Homo sapiens: one gene and its partner. Each later gene encodes a partner of the first gene's protein in a complex. Each region holds a gene or a part of one and is shown on either strand. Other genes may lie near its edges. The genes, in order: PLRG1 and SRRM2.

What was found.
Region 2: PLRG1 (region 1) and SRRM2 share a complex: the UniProt entries of both Homo sapiens proteins name them as parts of the minor spliceosome.

The regions. Positions count from the first base shown.
Region 1 is NC_000004.12:154,543,880-154,547,697, reverse strand, and holds part of PLRG1 (pleiotropic regulator 1), read left to right. Parts: intron 1-633; coding exon 634-687; intron 688-1,484; coding exon 1,485-1,575; intron 1,576-1,774; coding exon 1,775-1,862; intron 1,863-3,151; coding exon 3,152-3,253; intron 3,254-3,818. UniProt on the Homo sapiens protein: Involved in pre-mRNA splicing as component of the spliceosome. Component of the PRP19-CDC5L complex that forms an integral part of the spliceosome and is required for activating pre-mRNA splicing.
Region 2 is NC_000016.10:2,755,615-2,759,432, forward strand, and holds part of SRRM2 (serine/arginine repetitive matrix protein 2), read left to right. Parts: intron 1-719; coding exon of another isoform or gene 720-750; coding exon 751-992; intron 993-1,857; coding exon 1,858-1,965; intron 1,966-2,166; coding exon 2,167-2,331; intron 2,332-2,855; coding exon 2,856-2,933; intron 2,934-3,370; coding exon 3,371-3,433; intron 3,434-3,525; coding exon 3,526-3,558; intron 3,559-3,737; coding exon 3,738-3,788; intron 3,789-3,818. UniProt on the Homo sapiens protein: Required for pre-mRNA splicing as component of the spliceosome. As a component of the minor spliceosome, involved in the splicing of U12-type introns in pre-mRNAs.

The DNA of each region.
Region 1 (3,818 bases):
TATCAGAAATGTCAGACTTATATGTGAATTTTAAAAACAGAAAAATAAAATATGTTATTTTTGCCCCTCCTGGCAGGACTTATTGTGGTCGTACAGTATTTAATGGCCGTACCTGTATTATAATGGAAGTTTTGATCCTCATGGGAATACTGTTGATGACTTTTTTCTTATAGGAAATAAAAATGGTAGTATAATGATGGCAGAGATTCTTAGAGTGTGGAGAAGGTCACAGTAGAGATTAAAGGAAAAAATTGGAGAATATTCTTAACCTGTGAGGACACCATCTATCTTGTCTGTAATTCAGAAAGATGAAATTAAATACTGAAATCTTAATAAGTAAAGAGAATTCAAGATTCCACAGGAAACCATTTGCTTGGAAGAAATACCAGAGTGGATTGTCACTTGATAGGAGGGCTTCTTTGTATACCATTGCTATATAGCAAATGGTCAAGGACATGGTTTACAGAGATCAAAGCAAAAGTGATCAACTTCCCTTATTTCTGAGGCTTGACTTTAGTTGAGAAAATTTGATAGATCCAGTTGAAAACTTAATATTACTTGATACATTTAAAGAGATGATAACTTTTGTATAAGGTAAATTCACTACTGTTGATTTTTTTTGTGTTTTTTTAGGACAAGAAGTTGAATACTTTGTGGCAGGTACACATCCATACCCACCAGGACCTGGTTAGTGAGCTGTTATATATTGAAAATGTCTTAAAAATGTCACATATATTTTCACTAACGAGCCAATAATGAGATTCTTGTTGCCTATAAAATGCAAGATAAGCTCAGTAGCCAAGCATCCATGCATAGCTTTGTAGGTAATAATGAATACTCATATGCCTTCATTCAGCAAACATTCTTAAGTACGTATAATTTTTCAGGCAATGTGCTAGGAATTCAAAGACAGTAAAACTGTTGCAGGCCTAGTTATTTATTATCTGGTGGTTTAGGCAGACATGTAAATATCACTAAGCTTGTAAAAATGATGGAAATGTTAGAAGCAGTATCTGAGAAACATGTCCTCTGTCTGTATTAAGGCATTGGTCCACAGATGGAGTGGCCAGTGTAACAGGGTAGAGGACAAAAGGCTTAGTATGTAAAGAAAGTACAGGGAAATTGGGTGTTTCTAGTTTTAGTAAGTTACATCCACTCTTGGAAACATTCTGTTAGTATTTGAGGAACTGCTTAATACTGACTTGAAACTAATACCCAAATATAATGGAAATTAACTTTACTATTCTGGGCTGCTTTAATACCATGTGGGCTGTGATCAAATCAAATTTGAGTTACGTGTTATTAAGCAGTATTTATTGTAGAAATTAAAAACAAAGATGAGCAAAACTTAATCAAATTTGTATAATATCACTGCCTGGAGATAATAAACATTTGGTGTATGTTTTCCTTCATCATTTTATTTTAAGTGCATGTAAATGAATAATACACAGCTACTAAAAGAAGTTGATTTTTCATTTTAATAGGGGTTGCTTTGACAGCAGATACTAAGATCCAGAGAATGCCAAGTGAATCAGCTGCACAGTCCTTAGCGGTGGCATTACCTTTGCAGACCAAGTATGAAATATTATAATTACAAAGATCTTAAAAGCATATTTCACTGTTCACATTTTTTCTTTTTAAAATTTCTTTATAACTATTATATGACATTTTCCTTTATCAGGACTTTATAACAATTTAAAATAAAGGGTTAGTTTTGCAGAATACATGACTGGAGGCATTAATTACTTTGAAAATATTATTTCTTTTGCCCCAGGGCTGATGCAAATCGTACTGCCCCTAGTGGAAGTGAATACCGACATCCTGGGGCTTCTGACCGTCCACAGCCTACAGCGATGAATTCAGTAAGTTTTTCTGCATCAAATAGCAGGTTTCTAACTTTTGGAACATGTTGCCATATTTCCCTCTTCTTTGGAATTATTAAGATAAATAGCAGCCTGAGCTAGTCATTCATATTTCATAGCCCTAAAACTCAAGTTGGTAGTAAATTAACGTATTTTTTGGAATTTAATTCTGTTATTTGTCTACTTGTACATTGTGTGTAATATATATTTTGATAAAGATAATGTGATGTTGGTATTTATTGCCCACTATTAAAAATGCAAGGAGAGTTTTTCTGAAACTTGTGTTAGTATGTATTGAATATGAAAGTCTTTTTTTTTTTATTAAATTTTAAGTTGGTGTGTACAGTTATCTTGAGTGCTGTTAGTGTTGTACTATTCATGGGCTATACAACTAGTCTTATAAATGAGCATTTAGAAATAAGTTTATCTGTTTGTAAGTAAATGGCAACTGGTATTAGTATGGTAGAAATAGTTGTTGAATTTTCTATAGTTATTTTATTGATTTATCTGCAGCATAATAAAATATGCTGCCACTTGAAATAAGTGCTGGTTTTGCTTCTCAGCTCATTATGCAATTGATTTGACTTTATGAAGTGAATGAATGTGTAACTGCCACATCTCCTTTCCTCCTTTATTCCATTCAGAGCACGTCTTCTGTCCAGGCTCTCTACCCTCCTTATGAGGGTATAATTTAAGCTTCTTGAGGGCAGGAACTTTATGGGCTTATTTATGTTTTGGATGACTAGATGACTGCTAACAACAGATGGTATATCAGGCAGTATACCTGTTAAAATAGTATTTAAATATTGTATTAGAAGATAAATAGAAGGAACTGTCAGTCTTTGCTATATTAAACCAATAATGTTAAAATATGACAATGAAAGACAGTGGCACTAATACACTTAAAATGACTTTAATATTGGGAGCTTACATGGAGCATTTACTACTTATTAAATCTTTGTAGTAACCCTATGAAATAGGCACTATTCTTCCCATTTTACAGGTGAGCCACATAGAGGTTACATGATTGTTACCTAATGTCAAACAGCTAGTAATTGGCCAAGCTGGGTTTTGAACCCGTACACAGTGATGTGTGCTCTTAAGTCTAATGCTCTGCCTGTCTGTGATTTTATAATTGCTTTTTTAAGTTAACATACAGAAAATTGTATTTCTTCATTTATGGAAAAATTCTTTTGTAAGTTCCCTCTTTCCATTTCCATTTCTGAATTGATATCATGAAGCCTTAGGTATGATGTCTTTAATAATAATAATGTCTCTTCTATGTCTAGATTGTCATGGAGACTGGCAATACCAAGAACTCTGCACTGATGGCTAAAAAAGCCCCTACAATGCCAAAACCCCAGTGGCACCCACCGTGGAAACTCTACAGGGTGAGTGACTCTGCATTTATTTTATTATGTGAACCATGATTGCTTTGTAGTTGACAAGCACTGAAGAATAGAATAAGGAGGAAAAAGAGTGAATATGAAAAGCTGGTAGAGCGATCTGAGGTGGATTGAGAAGAGTCGTAGGGAGTATCTTAAAAGATCTCTTGGGAAGGTGACTTCCTTAAGCAAAAGTTATACTTTTATATAAAATAGTATGAAATGTCAAGATAAAGCTACTAAATATGGATGGCAGACTAAATAAATGTAGAAAAAGTGTTCAAAGTATTTAGTTTGAAGGTGAAGGGGAAAAACACCATATAAAGAAATTTATTTGGGCCTACCAGTTACTCTTTCAACTACAATAAATGAAAATGATTCAGAGTGTATCATCTAAAAGAAAATGGACATGCATGCTAACTTCAGCAGCACATACACTAAAATTGGAATGGTACGGAGAAGATGAGCATGGCCCTTCCACAAGGATAACACAGATTCGTGAAGTGTTCCATACTGTTTATTTTGCATTGCTTGCCTATACCAAAATATCTCATGTACTCCATAAATACAT
Region 2 (3,818 bases), on another chromosome or scaffold:
TTAAATATTTGGAATCAAGGAAATGGCCCTTACCTGGGAGGTGAAGTATATGACGATTATCCAAGGTTCATGTGTGTTTCTGATGTGCATGCTGGCCTTTAGTTGGGGTGTGAGGCTGCACATTCTGAACCAACTAGTCTGCTGTTCAGATACCTAGGGGCTGTGTAGTTTATTTCATATTCGTATAGGGTGGTCTGAAATCCTTAGGTAAGTTTTTGGGAGAGTCTTTGGACATGGACTAGAGGCCGTTGGGTGCCACAGATCTGTGTCTGGTGTTTGTTGTGACCAGGAGGCTTTGGTTGGTTACCAGAGGTTAGGAATTAGAGTAGTTGGTAAACACACCACTTGTGCATTTTGGGGCCAAAGGAGAACAAAAAGGGACAGTGTGGAGAGATTTTAGAGGAACAAGATCCTTGTTTGCCTAGGGTGGAAAAAGAAGAAAATTTAGGTGTAGGGAGGGATTATTTAGAATTCTGTGCAAGGGCATTGAGAGAAAGGCTGTAAGAACTGGGCTGTGATTTGGTAGAAAGGAAATTTGGAAGGGCAAAGAAGTGGTTTTCTTGGGAGACCAGGAGGATGGTGGAGCATTATACAGCGAAGACTTAGTGTGAAGATCAATGTTGAATTAGGGATGAAGGAGAGCAGGGACTTGGGTGTGGGGCGGTAAGTGGTTAGTTTGGGGCCAGGGGCCTGACCCGTGTCTCCCCGCTCCCCCTCAGGAGCGGTGGTGCCCCCCCCGGGCACGGGGCCATGTACAACGGGATCGGGCTGCCGACGCCCCGGGGCAGCGGCACCAACGGCTACGTCCAGCGCAACCTGTCCCTGGTGCGGGGCCGCCGGGGTGAGCGGCCTGACTACAAGGGAGAGGAGGAACTGCGGCGCCTGGAGGCTGCCCTGGTGAAGCGGCCTAATCCTGACATCCTGGACCACGAGCGCAAGCGGCGCGTCGAGCTGCGATGCCTCGAGCTGGAGGAGATGATGGAAGAGCAGGGGTGAGGGAGAGCTGGGGGAGAGTCAAGCACTGAATGAGTGCAGAGCTGGGGGTGTTAGGTGGGATGTATAGGGAGCTTAGGGTGGTTGAAAGAGGCCTGGCAAAGAGTTGTGGTAGGGGAGGAGGCAGATGAGCTCTAGAGAAGTGAAAACAGTTAAGGGACAGTGCAGAGTGGGAAATGAGAAGGCTGTGTGTCTGGGGCATAGATGGGAGCCTGAGGTACTAAATGGAGGCACGTGGGAGAAGGGAGGGGCCATTGAGGAACAAAAATGTGTTTTAAGGAAGAGATGGGAAAGCAGAGACCAGGTAGAGGAGCTAGGTAAGCTGATAGGTGTTGTCATTGGTAGAAAAGAAGAAGATAAATGGATGTAAGGATTGAGGCCTTGGAAAGTAGCATAGGCAGGAAAAGAGGAATTAGAAGAATACGTGAAGAAGTGGGAATCATGGGCTGGGAAGGGAAATTTTGGAAAAGGAGCCCATTAAGGCAGAAAACTCTTTTAGAGCAGTGGTTTTAAACTTCAGCAATGGTGATCCTTTTATACAGTATCCCTTACTTTGGAATCCCAGGAAGTAAAAGGCACATTCTTGTTGAAGTTGGGGAGGAGCACTTGGAACCCTGCTTGCTTAACTTTTTTCTTTTGGTCCCTGAGGTGTAGCATATTTAAAATCCACTGTTCTAGAGGGAGTAGTAAGTAGAGGGAAGAAAGATGATGGGAAAAGATCAGACAGAAGGGACTTTTGGGTGAGCGAAAAGTTCTGTGTGCGCATGGAGAGGGAGGGGCCCCTTTTGGGAATGAGGGAAATGGAAACCTGGGACTGGGGAAAGTGTCCTGTCGAGCTTAACCCTGAAGGGATTTGTTCTTCAGGTACGAGGAACAGCAAATTCAGGAAAAAGTGGCGACCTTTCGACTCATGTTGCTGGAGAAGGATGTGAACCCTGGGGGCAAGGAGGAGACCCCAGGGCAGAGGCCAGCGTGAGTGTTGCGCTCTCCCTCGATGACTCTGGACTCTACTCTGGCTGCTGGCTGCTGCTGCTGTCCTTTTCCTTACGTGGGACTTCCTCCCTGCTTTCGTCTGCCTTTCCCATGCCTTATTTGGCTCCTGCTTATACTTGTGTTCTGAATATGGCTCTGTCCTTTATATTTCCTTCAGACTTTTGCCCTTCTTTTCTCTAGGGTCACGGAGACTCACCAGTTGGCAGAATTAAATGAGAAGAAGAATGAAAGACTCCGTGCTGCCTTTGGCATCAGTGATTCTTACGTAGATGGCAGCTCTTTTGATCCTCAGCGTCGTGCCCGAGAAGCTAAACAACCAGCTCCTGAGCCTCCCAAACCTTACAGGTATACAAGGCCAAGAAACCACTGTCAGCTTCTTTTCTTGATTGTAAGCTCCATGCTCTATTTTTGTCTTTTTGCGGGCTGGTTTCTTCCCAAACTCTTCAGATTTTGTTCTTCTGAAGTTGAGGTGTCCAAAAAAATGTGTCCAAGGGTTAGTCACAGTGGGTCACGCGCGTAATCCCAGCATTTTGGGAAGCTCAGGCAGGAGATCACTTGAGGCCAGGAGTTTGAGACCAGCCTGGGCGATGTAGTGAGACCCCATCTCTACAAAAAGAAAAAAAGCTGGTTGGTGGCACATGCCTGTAGTCCAGGCTGCTTGGAGAGGTGGAGGCAGGAGGGTCTTTTGAGCCCACAAGTTGGAGGTTACGGTGTGAGCTGTGTTGCTGCCACTGCACCCCACCTGAGGCAACAGAGCGAGACTCTTATTTTTTTATTTTTATTACTATTTTTTTAGACTCTGTCTTTTAAAGAAAAGAAAGGAATGTTTGTTCTACCACCCATCTCTGCTGCTTTTCATTTTTCCCTAGCCTTGTTCGGGAGTCTAGCAGTTCTCGCTCACCAACCCCAAAGCAGAAGAAGAAGAAAAAGAAGAAAGATAGAGGACGGTAAGTTAGTTGGAAAGTGACTCTGATAGCCAGAGGACCAATCCTGTGGTGTACCTTTCTCTCTGGAAGTGGACAGTTCTGGCTTCCACAAAGCAGGAGATAGTTGTCAGGGAGGAGGGAGTTACCATTGAGGCCTCAACTAGAAGAAATACCTGAGTTTCTCAGTGGGGAAGTGTTGAGTTTGCAGTTCTGCTAATTAAGATTGGCCAGCAGCATTTTGGATTCTGGAATTTTCTTTTTCATTTTGAGGTTTGTTGACTTAAGGAGTTACTTGTGCTTGTTGGAGAAAGAAGAAATAAGTCCTGGGCTTAGGTCTGGGGCATTAGTGCTATTAGGACATTCAAGTGTTTTAGAAACCTTTTTAGGAGAGAGATTGTAAGTGGGAGGGCCAGGAAAGAAGCCAAGCAGGATGAGCTTGCTTTTGAATCCATCTTTAGCAGGTCAGAGAGCAGCTCTCCTCGACGGGAGAGAAAGAAAAGCTCAAAGAAGAAGAAGCACAGGTATGAGGTGGGAATACTTGAATGACTGGAGAAGGTTTGCTGAATTCAGGCAGAGGTGTTTCTTATGTTTTTTCTTCTCTTTTTTCCAACAGGTCAGAATCTGAGTCCAAGAAACGTAAGCATAGGTAAGAGCTCTTTAACTCATAGGGGGCGCAGTGGCATGTGGAGTGGTGATTTTTTTTTCTTGGAGTGAAGCTCAATTCCTTGATCTTCCTTGTGTCAACACTCCCTCTTTCCATTTCACTTTTGGTTTTATTTCCTTTTTTAAAGAAGTTACTTTTAACAACCTTTCCTTATTTCCCAGGTCTCCCACTCCAAAGAGCAAACGTAAATCTAAGGACAAAAAGCGAAAGCGGTGAGTGAATTTGTGGGGAATTTGCTTAGG